Linked DNA regions of Homo sapiens: region 2 is linked to region 1. The links come from fine-mapping of genetic effects on gene expression. Tissue or cell type: esophagus mucosa. Region 1 holds a variant in brackets; the other region holds the start of a gene. All regions are shown on one strand. Distances are between the middles of the regions.

Region 1 (5,141 bases):
TGTGGTCCTCCCGTGAGTCTAGGGAGGGGATGCCCCAGAGGAGCAAGGTCAGCAGTGTCCCCTCTGTGGTCCAAGATCCAGGGAGAAGCGTGTGCTCTGCACGCTGTGCTGAACCAGAAGTCACCCCCTTACATTTGACTCTGTCTTCAATGTATTTTTAGAAGGAAACTGTAACCACTGCTGCTTCGAATGTGCTGTCACCATCATAGCCACCTCCCCTACAAAGACACAAGCAGGAGCCAGAGGCTGGGAAGCCTGGCAACCTCGAGAAATGGCACCTGGGATGTCACTTGCACAAGAAAAAGAAGACAGAGTGTGCCCACCTGGCCCAAGAGCTGAAGCCCGGAAGTGGGGTTGGGTGACTGGGCCAGGAGCCTCTGCCCTCGGTCCTCCCACCTCGGGAAGAATCCGGGGCACAGTGTTATGGGGCAGTTGTAGGAGTAGCCGACAAACAAAATCAGGAGACTTCTCGTCACATTCAGACTTCCAGCTTGCTATAGGTTGGATGTTCATCCCCTCCAAATCTCCTGTTGAACTGTGGCTACCAGTGCTGGAAGTGGGCCTGGCGGGAGGTGTCTGGGTCCTGGGGACAGATCCCTCGTGGCTTGGTGCTGTCCTGCCATAGTGAGTTCTCCAAGATCTGATTGTTTAGAGGCGTGTGGCACCGCCCCGCACTCTTTCCTGTTCCTCTTCTCGCCGGGTAATGTGCCTGCTCCTGCTTCCCCTTCTGCCTGAGTGGAAGCTCCCTGAGGACCCCCGGAAGCCGAGCAGCTGGCGATGCCATGCTTGTACAGCCTGCAGAACCGTGAGCCAATTAAACTTATTTCTTTATATTACCCAGCCTCAGGTATCTCTTTATAGCAATGCAAAAAAAAAAAAAAAAAGAAACAACAACAAAAAAAACCCCACAGCCTAACACACAGCTCCTCTTAAAAACCAGCTCTGGGCCAGGCACAGCGGCTCACGCCTATAATCCCAGCACTTTGGGAGGCCAAGGCAGGTGGATCACCTGAGGTCAAGAGTTCAAGACTAGCCTGGCCAACACGGTAAAACCCTGTCTCCACTAAAAATACAAAAAATTAGCTGGGCATGGTGGTGCATGCCTGTAATCCCAGCTACTCGGGAGGCTGAGTCAGGAGAATCACTTGAACCCAGGAGGCGGTGGTTGCAGTGAGCTGAGATCGCACCACTGCACTTAGCCTGTGCGACAGAGTGAGACTCCGTCTCAAAAAAAGAAAAAACAGCTCTGGAGCCGAGTTCCCACAAAGCAGCATTGTCTGTCTGCTTAGAGCTGGGGCTTCTTGACAAGCCACTTCATTTTTCTGAGTGTCAATGTATTTATCTGTAAAATAAAAATTTACTTTTAATTTTTAAAAAATGGCCTGGGGTGACAACTGCCCCACCCCCTGGGGTAGGATCTGTGCCCCTCAAATCTGCCCGCTCCCCAGCATTAGCACCGTTCCTACTAGTGAGTCTATGACCCCTGGGCCGAGGGAGTTAGGGTGACTGTGGGGCAGCTCTAGGCCCCTTCTCCCCTCCACTGTGCAGGGGCAGCCTCGGAGCCCTTCACTCCTCAGGCCTGGGCTGGTGCCCCTCCGTGCCTGCTGTGGGAGCTGGGGACGCATGCCACCCTCACGGGGTAGGCATGCCAGCCGGGGAGCCAGAAAGAACATGAGGCAAAGATGGGTTGAGTGCAGGGTGGACCCAGGGTGGCAGGGAGGAGCTGCTTGCCATTTGAGCCGGGTGGCCTCTCCGAGAGCAGAGGAGGCTGAGGCCCAGCCACGTGGGGTCTGGAGGAAGAGTCTCCAGGCAGGGGCAGCAGATGAGAGGGCACCAAGGCAGGAGTGTCCTCAGGGGACAGCAGGGGGACCCGAGTGGCACCTCAAGGGGGAGGAACAGGGAGGTGGGCGGTTGGGCAGATCCCCAGGCCTCTCCACATTCCGGAAGGGATCCCCCCTGGCCTTGTGTGCACCAGGTGAGGGGCCAGGGCAGAGGAGGGCCAGGCAGAGGCTCCTCCTGTAACACAAGCAAGGTGGCCGCGGCGGGGGCCGTGTGGCTGCAGGTTAGGTGTCGTTGGATTCTGCATAGGTGTTGAAAGTCAAGGCATTGAGATTTCCTGGCCCCAGCTGTGAGAGAACGACGTGGGGGTCATGGAGAGCTCCAGGGCCTTTGCCTGAGCACTGGTGGTGGGGACCGATGCCACTGGGGCGGGTGGAGACAGATCTGCATCCCTGGCATCAGAACTGCAGTCCTTTGCACGCAGCCCCAGGGGGACGGGAACCTGCG[G/A]TCCGGGAGCCATGGGGGCTGCAGCTCAGGGAGAAGCCCCCACGTGGTGAGGTTGCACATGGCCAGGCCAGGACTGGGCGCTGAGCCCCAGGAGGAACCCGAGGGAGACTAGAAGTGGGGCCAGCAGAGAGAGGAAACCAGGGGATGTTGGGGAGCCCGGCAGCAGTAGGAGGGGGGACTGTGGCCGAGCTGCCCCTCCCCACCCCAGAGGACAGCTTAAGGGACTTAATCTCCAGGAAGTCATGGGTGACCTTGACCACGACAGCATCAGCTTGTGGCAGAATGGCAGTGATTGCAGGGGCAGTTCCTCTGGCGTTTGCAGAAAACAGGAGGCAAGCTTGCCGGGGATAGGGGGTTACGGGAGGGGGGTTTAGAGTGGACAAAATTGCAGGATACTTGGGGGCTACTAGGGATGGCTCTGAAGAGAGGGGAAAGCTGAAGTTCCCAGGAGAGGACTCAGCAGAAGGGAAGGGAGCCCAGGGGGGCCGGGGGAGGAGCCGTGTGGAAGGAAGGAGACAAGAGATGGGTGGAATGGGAAGAGGAGGTGGGAGGCAGGGGAGGTGGAGAAAAGGAGGGGGAGGTGGGAGGGAGCCCTTGGGAAAGGAGGAAGAGTTAGGTGTTGGGGGAGGTGGGAGTGAGGGATACACGGGAGGCAGGAGGGACTGCCTGTAAGGACTTGGACTCAGCCAGGCGCACAAACAGCAACCAAGAATGATGTTTGCACATCTCAGGCCCAACTTTTACAACCACTTTGGAACAAAACCAAAGACAGTAAACACGGTGAAGTCATCCAGTGCATGTGAAAGAAAAAAAAATATTGTGTTCTTCATCCAAACAGTGAATGTTCTTAGCATTTCTGAGAAACACAGGTCACGTGGATACTAATCAGGGAGTGCTTCCTGGAAGAGGTGGGAGTACGGGCAGAAATCAGCCAGGTAGAGGGGAGGTGGCTTTCCAGACAAGACCATGGGCTGAGCAAAGGCCCCAGATGGAGGAGGAGGAGGAGCGGACAGGCCAGTGTGGGGAGGGTCTGCGTCTGCTGGGAGCAGAGAGAAGCCCCATCACACCGGCTCCTTCCTTGGGAGGCCTTCTCACCTTCCTAGAGGGAGCAGCGCCCCCATCCTGCTCCCCCCACCTCCCTGCAGCCTGCACCTGCCTATCAAGAAGCCTTACCCCATCTCAAGCACACACTTGGGTATACGTTGGTCTCTGCCACCAGCTGCAGCTGATCTCTGCCAGCTCCGCAAGGGAGAGCCCTGTTGTGTTCAGTTCATTATTGTGTTTCCAGACCCAAGACAATGCATAAATGTATGAATGAATAATAGAAATGAATGGATGGATGGACGGACGGATGGATGGATGGGTCGATGGATAGATGGGCAGATGGATGGATGGATGGATGGACAGATGGGCAGATGGATGGATGAATGGATAGATGGGCAGATGGATGGATGGATGGATGGATGGATGGATGGATGGATGGGTAGATGGATGGATGGATGGATGGATGGATGGATGGGCGGATGGATGGATGGATGGATGTGCAGATGGATGGATGGATGGATGGGCAGATGGATGGGTGAATGAACAGATAGGTGGGTAGGTAGATAGATGGATATGTGCATGAATAGAAGGATAAGCAAATTCATGGGCAGATGAGTAGATGCGTGGGTGGATGCATGGATAGATGCGTGTGTAGCTGAATATCAGTTCAACTCTATTTTCTTAGGACTGGGTTGTTGCCTTTTACACCCCCAAAACCTTTATCCAAAGGCCTTTCTCACATTACTTTTCTCTTTCTCTTTGTTCTCAAGAAGTTCTTGCCTATAACCTTTATTTCTGGACATAATTACAAATAACCTTACATTGTTATTTAAATTCTTCATGTTTACACATTTAGCTTATAAATAATTCAAGAGGCTAATGCTGACTTTGAACTAGACTCACTACCAGAGTGATAAATCAACCATGTTTGAACCCCTGTGGACTTGGCAATGTTCTAATCATTAAGATGATGACACCGGGCATGGTGGCTCACGCCTGTAATCCCAGCACTTTGGGAGGCAGAGGAGTTCAAGACCAGCCTGGGCAACATAGTGAGACCCTGTCTGTACAAAAATAAAAATATCAGGTAGGCATGATGGTGAGCGCCTGTAATTCCAGCTACACAGGAGGTTGAGGCAGGAGAATCACTTGAACCCAGGAGGCAGAGGTTGCAGAGAGCCGACATCGCGCCATTGCACTCCAGCCTGGGTGACAAAAGTGAACCTCCGTCTCAAATAAATAAATAAATCAGCTGGGCATGGTGGTACATGTCTGTAGTCTCAGCTACTCAGAAGACTAAGGCAGGAGGATCACTTGAGCCCAGGAGGTCGATGCTGCAATGAGCTGTGACCGCACCCTTGCACTCCAGCTTGGGTTACAGAACGAGATCCTGTCTCAAAAAAAAAAAAAAAAAAAAAAGATAAAAAAGTGTTCTGCTCGAGCTCTTCTTGGGGACTGGGCCTGCCCTGGGATGCATTCTGCAGAGATGTCCCTGCCTGGTCTTCAGACATAAGGGGCCTCACTCGAACCTTTTGAAGCTCCCCATTGCCCCTTGCCCAGCCTCTCCTTGGCCCACCCATACCTGTGCCCCCACTCTCCCACCCTAACCCTCCCAGCCTTACCTCACTCTACGCCACCTACACCTCTGCCCCTCCAGCCACTCTGGTCTCCTTCTAGCTCCCCAGAGGTGCCATCTTCCCTTCTGCCACGGGACCTTTGCCATGCAGTTTCCTGTCTTTGCCTCGTTAACCTCCATGCATTCTTCAATTTGGGGCTCGCTGTCACTTCCTTGGGGCCCCTATAGGGTCAGG
Region 2 (5,141 bases), 39 kb after region 1:
GACTTAAATTCAAGAGTTCAAGACCAGCCGGACAACATGGGAAAACCCTGTCTCTACAAAAAGTACAAAAATTAGCCAGGTGTGGTGGCTGAAGCCTGTAGTCCCAGCTACTGTGGGGGCTGGTGGGAGGATCGCTAGAGCCTGGAAGGTGGAGGCTGCAGTGAGCCATGACGGCTGGGAGACAGAGACAGCAAGACCCTGTCCCCTCACCCCACCCTATCCTCCCAAAAAAGTGATACATGGTTCTACTGCCAGGCAGCGAGCAGTAGGAGCAGATCTGAACCTGGGTCCTGGGGGGTACGTACTCCGGGTAGCAGCTCCCACTGGAAGGTGCGTTCACCCACACCCCTTTCTCCTCTACTTGTCTGTCACTGTGGCTGGCACCACATCCTGCAAACCCAGGGGTATTCATCTACTGCTGGTAGAGCTAGCCCAGGCGTGCTCACCTAGGTGCCCAACCTGGGCCTTTCAAATACTGAGATGTAGTTTTAGTTACAACATAGCTAGTAAGTAACCATTATATAATCGGCATGTGTTTCCTTTCAACCCAATGAATCAGTCCCATGCAAAGCCTGGAAGCCTGAGACTTTCACTCAAGTCTGGTGTTCTGAAGGCAGTGTTTCTGTAGTTGTGAAATTATATTGAGCCACAATGCACTGTTTCCTGCACTGTGACATACTCATGTGACAGCCATGAGAAGGGGCCTGATTTGCCGTCAGTGGACAAGGTGTCAAGTGTTATCCCAAACTGTTTATGGCTGATGCTGGAGAAGGATATGGCTGTTATTAAAAGCATGAACAATCACTGACAGTCAACCCGAGTCAAGCCAGAAACAAAGGGAACCATCATTGGGATAAACAGCGCCTCCTGGTTTAGAGCAGGGCTTCTCCAGCTCAGCACTGTGAGCACCTGGGCAGGGGGATCTCCCTGTGCCTGCCGCCCTGAGCACGGGTGGGATATTGAGCAGCGTCCCTGGCCTCTACCCTCCAAATGCCAAGAGCACCTCTGCAAGGTCTTACCACTGGAAAAGTCTCCACACACTGCCAGTGGCTCCGTGTGGGCCCAAAACCATCCCTGGCTGAGAAGTATTGATCTGAAGTGTTTGGGTTTTCTGGGAGCTTTCTCAGGTACTGACTCACTTGACCTTCGACTGACTCGAGGCCCAGAGAAGCTATATGGGTTCGTTAAAGCCAGCGGCGGCCAGCTGGCGGGGGTGGCAGTATTGGGGTGGGTACAGGGGTCAGCCGACTCCTAGTCCTCTTTAAGCTGAGTTAGATCACCTGATGAATACTGGGCCTTCATTTCAAAACAAAGATTCAGAAAATGAAAACAAATCAAAATTTACAGAACCGTGTGTGCTGCTTTCTCTGCCTGCTCAAACCTCTGAATACCAGATGATAAAAGAATAACGATCTCACAGACTGACCAATTAAACTGACACGTCTTGATGGTACGAATTTAAGTTTCAAACAATGTCACTAAGGTCAATGTACACGAGCCCTCGTCAAAACGAAACGGCCGCGTCCAAACCAGTCCTGACCCGGGCGGCTGCAGCCCGGCCCCGGGAAGGCTCCTCCCGGCAGAGTGCGGAGACCTGGGAGGCGCCCGCCACCGGCCAGGCCAGCGAGCCGCTTTGTTCTCGAAGCCCACCTGGGCCTAGAGAATAAGTGTTGCCCCGGAGCGGGTGGGGGTCCCCATAAGGGGGGTTTGAGTAGTTCGCTCCCCAGCCACCCGGCTGCGTGAACAGCCCCCCAGCGAGCGCACGGCCTACCCCCCGCGCTCCGCGGCCCAGAGCGGCCCTCGCCCGGCCTCTGCTCGCCGGGGCGGCGGCGCGACCCACGCGCCCGGCCGGGGCCAGGGGTGCTCAAGATGGCGTCGTCACGGCCCCCGTGCCCGGGGCCCCACGCGAGGCCGGGCCCCAAGCGAGGCGCTGAGTGGGGAGAACGAGCGCTCGCGGCTCACGCCAAACGCCGCCTCTGCAGGCACTCGTGGAGACCGGCAGCGGGGCCCGCGCTCAGCTACAGCCCTGACCGCCCGCGCCGCTGCCCCGCGCACGCCCGCGGGCGCCCACAGCGCCGCGCCCGGCCCCGGCCCTCTCTGGGCTCCCCAGCCCCACTTCCGCCCGCGTCCCCGGCCCCGCGCAGGCCCCGCCGCCTCACCGCGGTCGAGCCCTTCTTGACGGCCTCCTGCGCGTACTCCACTTGGAAGAGGTGGCCGTCGGGCGAGAAGACGGTGATGGCGCGGTCGTAGCTCATGCCGGCGGGCGGCGGCCGGGCTCCTTCCGCCGCGACTCTCAAAAGCGCACACTCACGGCCCGCGCGCACCCGCGACTCCCGGCGCCACTACGCCCGCGCCCCACCCTCGGCGCCGTGTCCTGCGCTGCCGGCGACGGGCGGCGTCAGGCGGCGACGGGCAGCGTCAGGCGGCGTCGGGCGGACGTGATGGCGCGCGCCGGGGCGGGGTCAGGCCGAACCACCGGTGGCCGGGGGTGGGAGGCGGTGCTCCGGCGAGGGCCGGGCGCTGGGTGCGAGGGGGTCGCCGGGGGCCACCGTTCGGCACTGGGCCGCAGACCGTTCTGCAGGGCGGAGCGGCGGCGCCGCGGGCCCGGAGGCGCGGCGACGGCGACGGGGCGGACGAGCCCACGACGCGGCGCCCCCCGCGCTCCCGCCCCCTTCCCCCCCTCCGCGACTGCGGATAATGAGCGCCTCGGGCCGCCCAGCGCAGCCGGAGTATCCACCTCGATGACCACGGGCTGAGCCCCGCGCCGCCACCATGTCCGTGGCCTTCGCGTCTGCCCGGCCAAGAGGCAAAGGGGAGGTTACGCAGCAAACCATCCAGAAGGTGGGCCGGGCCGGAGCGGCGGCGCTGGGCGGCGGGTCTGCGGGCGGGCGCGCGCGGGGACGGGGCGCGGGCAGCTGGCGGGCGCGGGGCGCGAACAAAGCCGGGGCGCAGCCGGGCGGCCGCGAGCCCCGACGGCGGCCCCGTGCCCTTCCCCGCGTCCCACGCCTGCGCGCCGGCGGGCACCCGGCCGTGTGGGGGGCGGTCCCCGGAGAGCCTGCGCCAACTTTGTTGGGGCGCGCGGGTCCCTCGGGCCGGGGCACTGGGCGGTGGGGGCCGGGCGGACGCTGGAGGCTGCCGGCCCCCGAGCGCGCTGTCCCCCGAGTCCGCGGCGCGCGCTGGGAACTGTCCTGGGCTATGCCGGGCGCACGGGGACCCCTCGGGGCCGGAGCCGCGGCGAGGGCTTGTCGCGCTCCGCAGCCAGCTTCGGTGGCGACGGCGGGCGGTACTCGTTTTCTGCGCTCATTTTGGTTAGTGGTGAGGGGCCCGGGTCGGCCTCCGGGCGCACTTGCGACCGCGGGGACTGTGGCCGGGGCTGCCCCTCTTGCTCCTGGAGCGAGGCGCGAACGATGGAGGCACGGAAGGACGCGTCCCGATCCCCATTTGCGGGGCATCGTTACGCAGCCCGGCCCCGTAGGGAGCGCACCGCCCCCTCCGTATCCTCGCGGCTACGCCGGGTTTCAGCGTGACACCCTCGCCAGCCGCCTCGCCTAACAAACTTGACGGATTTGCTCCACAACCTTTCTTCTAGCTCCGTAAGTTCGGCCTTGTGGTTTTCAAGAGACAGCGTTTATGTGGGTTTGGGACACCGTTATCCAAAGCCCTAAGTTTTGAAATTGAGACTTTGTATTTTCTGCTGTTTTTTCTGTAGAAGACAGATTCGGAAGAAAATCAGCATTAGCCATACCCGTTTCAGTTGTCACAACATCTGTTGGAATGACATTGGTTTTTTTTCCTAAACTCTGACTCCGTCTTCACCCTGGTGGGATTGCAGGGATAAACAGTGGTATTCCTAGGTTCCCAGGAGCCGCTTGTCTCCCTAAGGGGGTTCACCTTGACCTTGACTGAGGCTGTTATTCCTTGATGACGTGCCAGTCTCCTGTGGAAGTTGTCCTAAATCTATCGCCTATTTTGAGACTACCTTTGCTGTTGCTAGTTTTAGAAATTTGATGGTCTTAACAAATGAGAACCTTGGCCAACTCTGAACAGGAGAGATTGAGAATAGCAGAAATACAGATTTACAAGTGTGGCATTTTAATTTACTTAGTAAACACTTATGTGGCGCTTACCGTATCCCAGACACTGTTCTAGGGGTTTTATAAATCTTGATTCATCCAATTCTTCATAGAAGCTACTGGCATCCCGTTTAATAGCTAAAGAGGCTGCGGCCTAGGGAGGCCGTGCCTTGCTGGTAAGTGGACACTGAGGCCTAGGGGGGCTAAATGCCTTGCTGGTAAGTGGCACAGCCAGGTGTCGATCCCATACGGTGGCTCCAGGGTCTGCTCTGTTGGTGCCCCTTGATCTGGGAACATTTGGCCAGGCGGAGGTCAAGCTCTAGGCTCAGAGGCAAATGTTGGAACCCAGAGCATCTCCTGGCACTCTGGTTTTTTGGAGCTTAACAGTCATTGTTCCTGAAGCTACCTTTGGCTGCAACGTTTATCCCATTATTTGCACTTCGCACACAGTTCCATTGAAGCTCCCCAAATTCTCCAGGTAAAAGTGTGTATTGAGGTGCTGCCCCGAACATCAGATCAGAAAGGAAGAAATGCACCTGTGGACCGTGGGTCCCTGGGCAGAAACTCAGCCTGCTGACCATTGGAAATAGGCCTTCAGTTTAGGCTGCTGACTTGGCTTGGTAGGGCCAGCAGTCTGCGTATTGGGCTTGGTGTTTTGACGGTGAATATATGTACCCAGGGATCTTTTACTGGGAGGTGTGAGAAGGCTGAGAAAGGTGTGAGAGGTGTATGTTCTATGCCTCAGACGTGTGCTGTGTCCACAGTGTGTGCTGGTAGTGTCATGCCGAGAGCTTTAAGAGAAGCCAGGGACCCCTCTGAAGCCTGCGTGGTAGTGAAGGAGAAGGAAGTCTACAACTTGTCCTTACAGCATTCTGCGTGGTAGCGAAGGAGAAAGAGGTCTACAACTTGTCCTTACAGCATTCTGCGTGGTAGTGAAGGAGAAGGAGGTCTACAACTTGTCCTTACAGCATTCTGCTTGGTAGTGAAGGAGAAAGAGGTCTACACCTTGTCCTTACAGCATTCTGTGTGGGTGGAGATCTTCCAGGCCAACTTCTACTCAACCTTCAA

Which allele goes with the higher level. Alleles are on the strand shown, and positions count from the first base shown. SD is a standard deviation of normalised expression in the study named.
For the expression in esophagus mucosa of the gene that starts at base 2,721 in region 2, allele G in region 1 goes with a lower level than allele A (small effect, 0.23 SD a copy in GTEx).

What was found. PIP is the estimated chance that this variant, and not a neighbour inherited with it, causes the effect.
Region 2: it holds the start of SS18L1, and the variant in region 1 is fine-mapped to the expression of SS18L1 in esophagus mucosa (GTEx, PIP above 0.99). The same link has a PIP of 0.9 or more in sun-exposed skin and unexposed skin.

Annotation. Positions count from the first base shown.
Region 1 is chr20:62,102,089-62,107,229 of GRCh38, forward strand. It overlaps LOC105372706 (a long non-coding RNA gene), which reads right to left. Exons shown (of 3, transcript XR_936963.2): 3 at 1-795. Among named protein-coding and RNA genes, the nearest start is that of LSM14B, 18 kb to the right of the region's middle. The variant G/A (reference allele first, on the strand shown) is at 2,287.
Region 2 is chr20:62,141,049-62,146,189 of GRCh38, forward strand. SS18L1 (SS18L1 subunit of BAF chromatin remodeling complex) reads left to right here and starts at 2,721. Exons shown (of 11, transcript NM_198935.3): 1 at 2,721-2,841. The coding sequence starts at 2,773. It overlaps PSMA7 (proteasome 20S subunit alpha 7), which reads right to left and starts at 2,346. Exons shown (of 7, transcript NM_002792.4): 1 at 2,160-2,346. The coding sequence starts at 2,255. RefSeq lists silencers at 1,548-2,187, 2,228-2,937, 3,058-3,117, 3,148-3,197.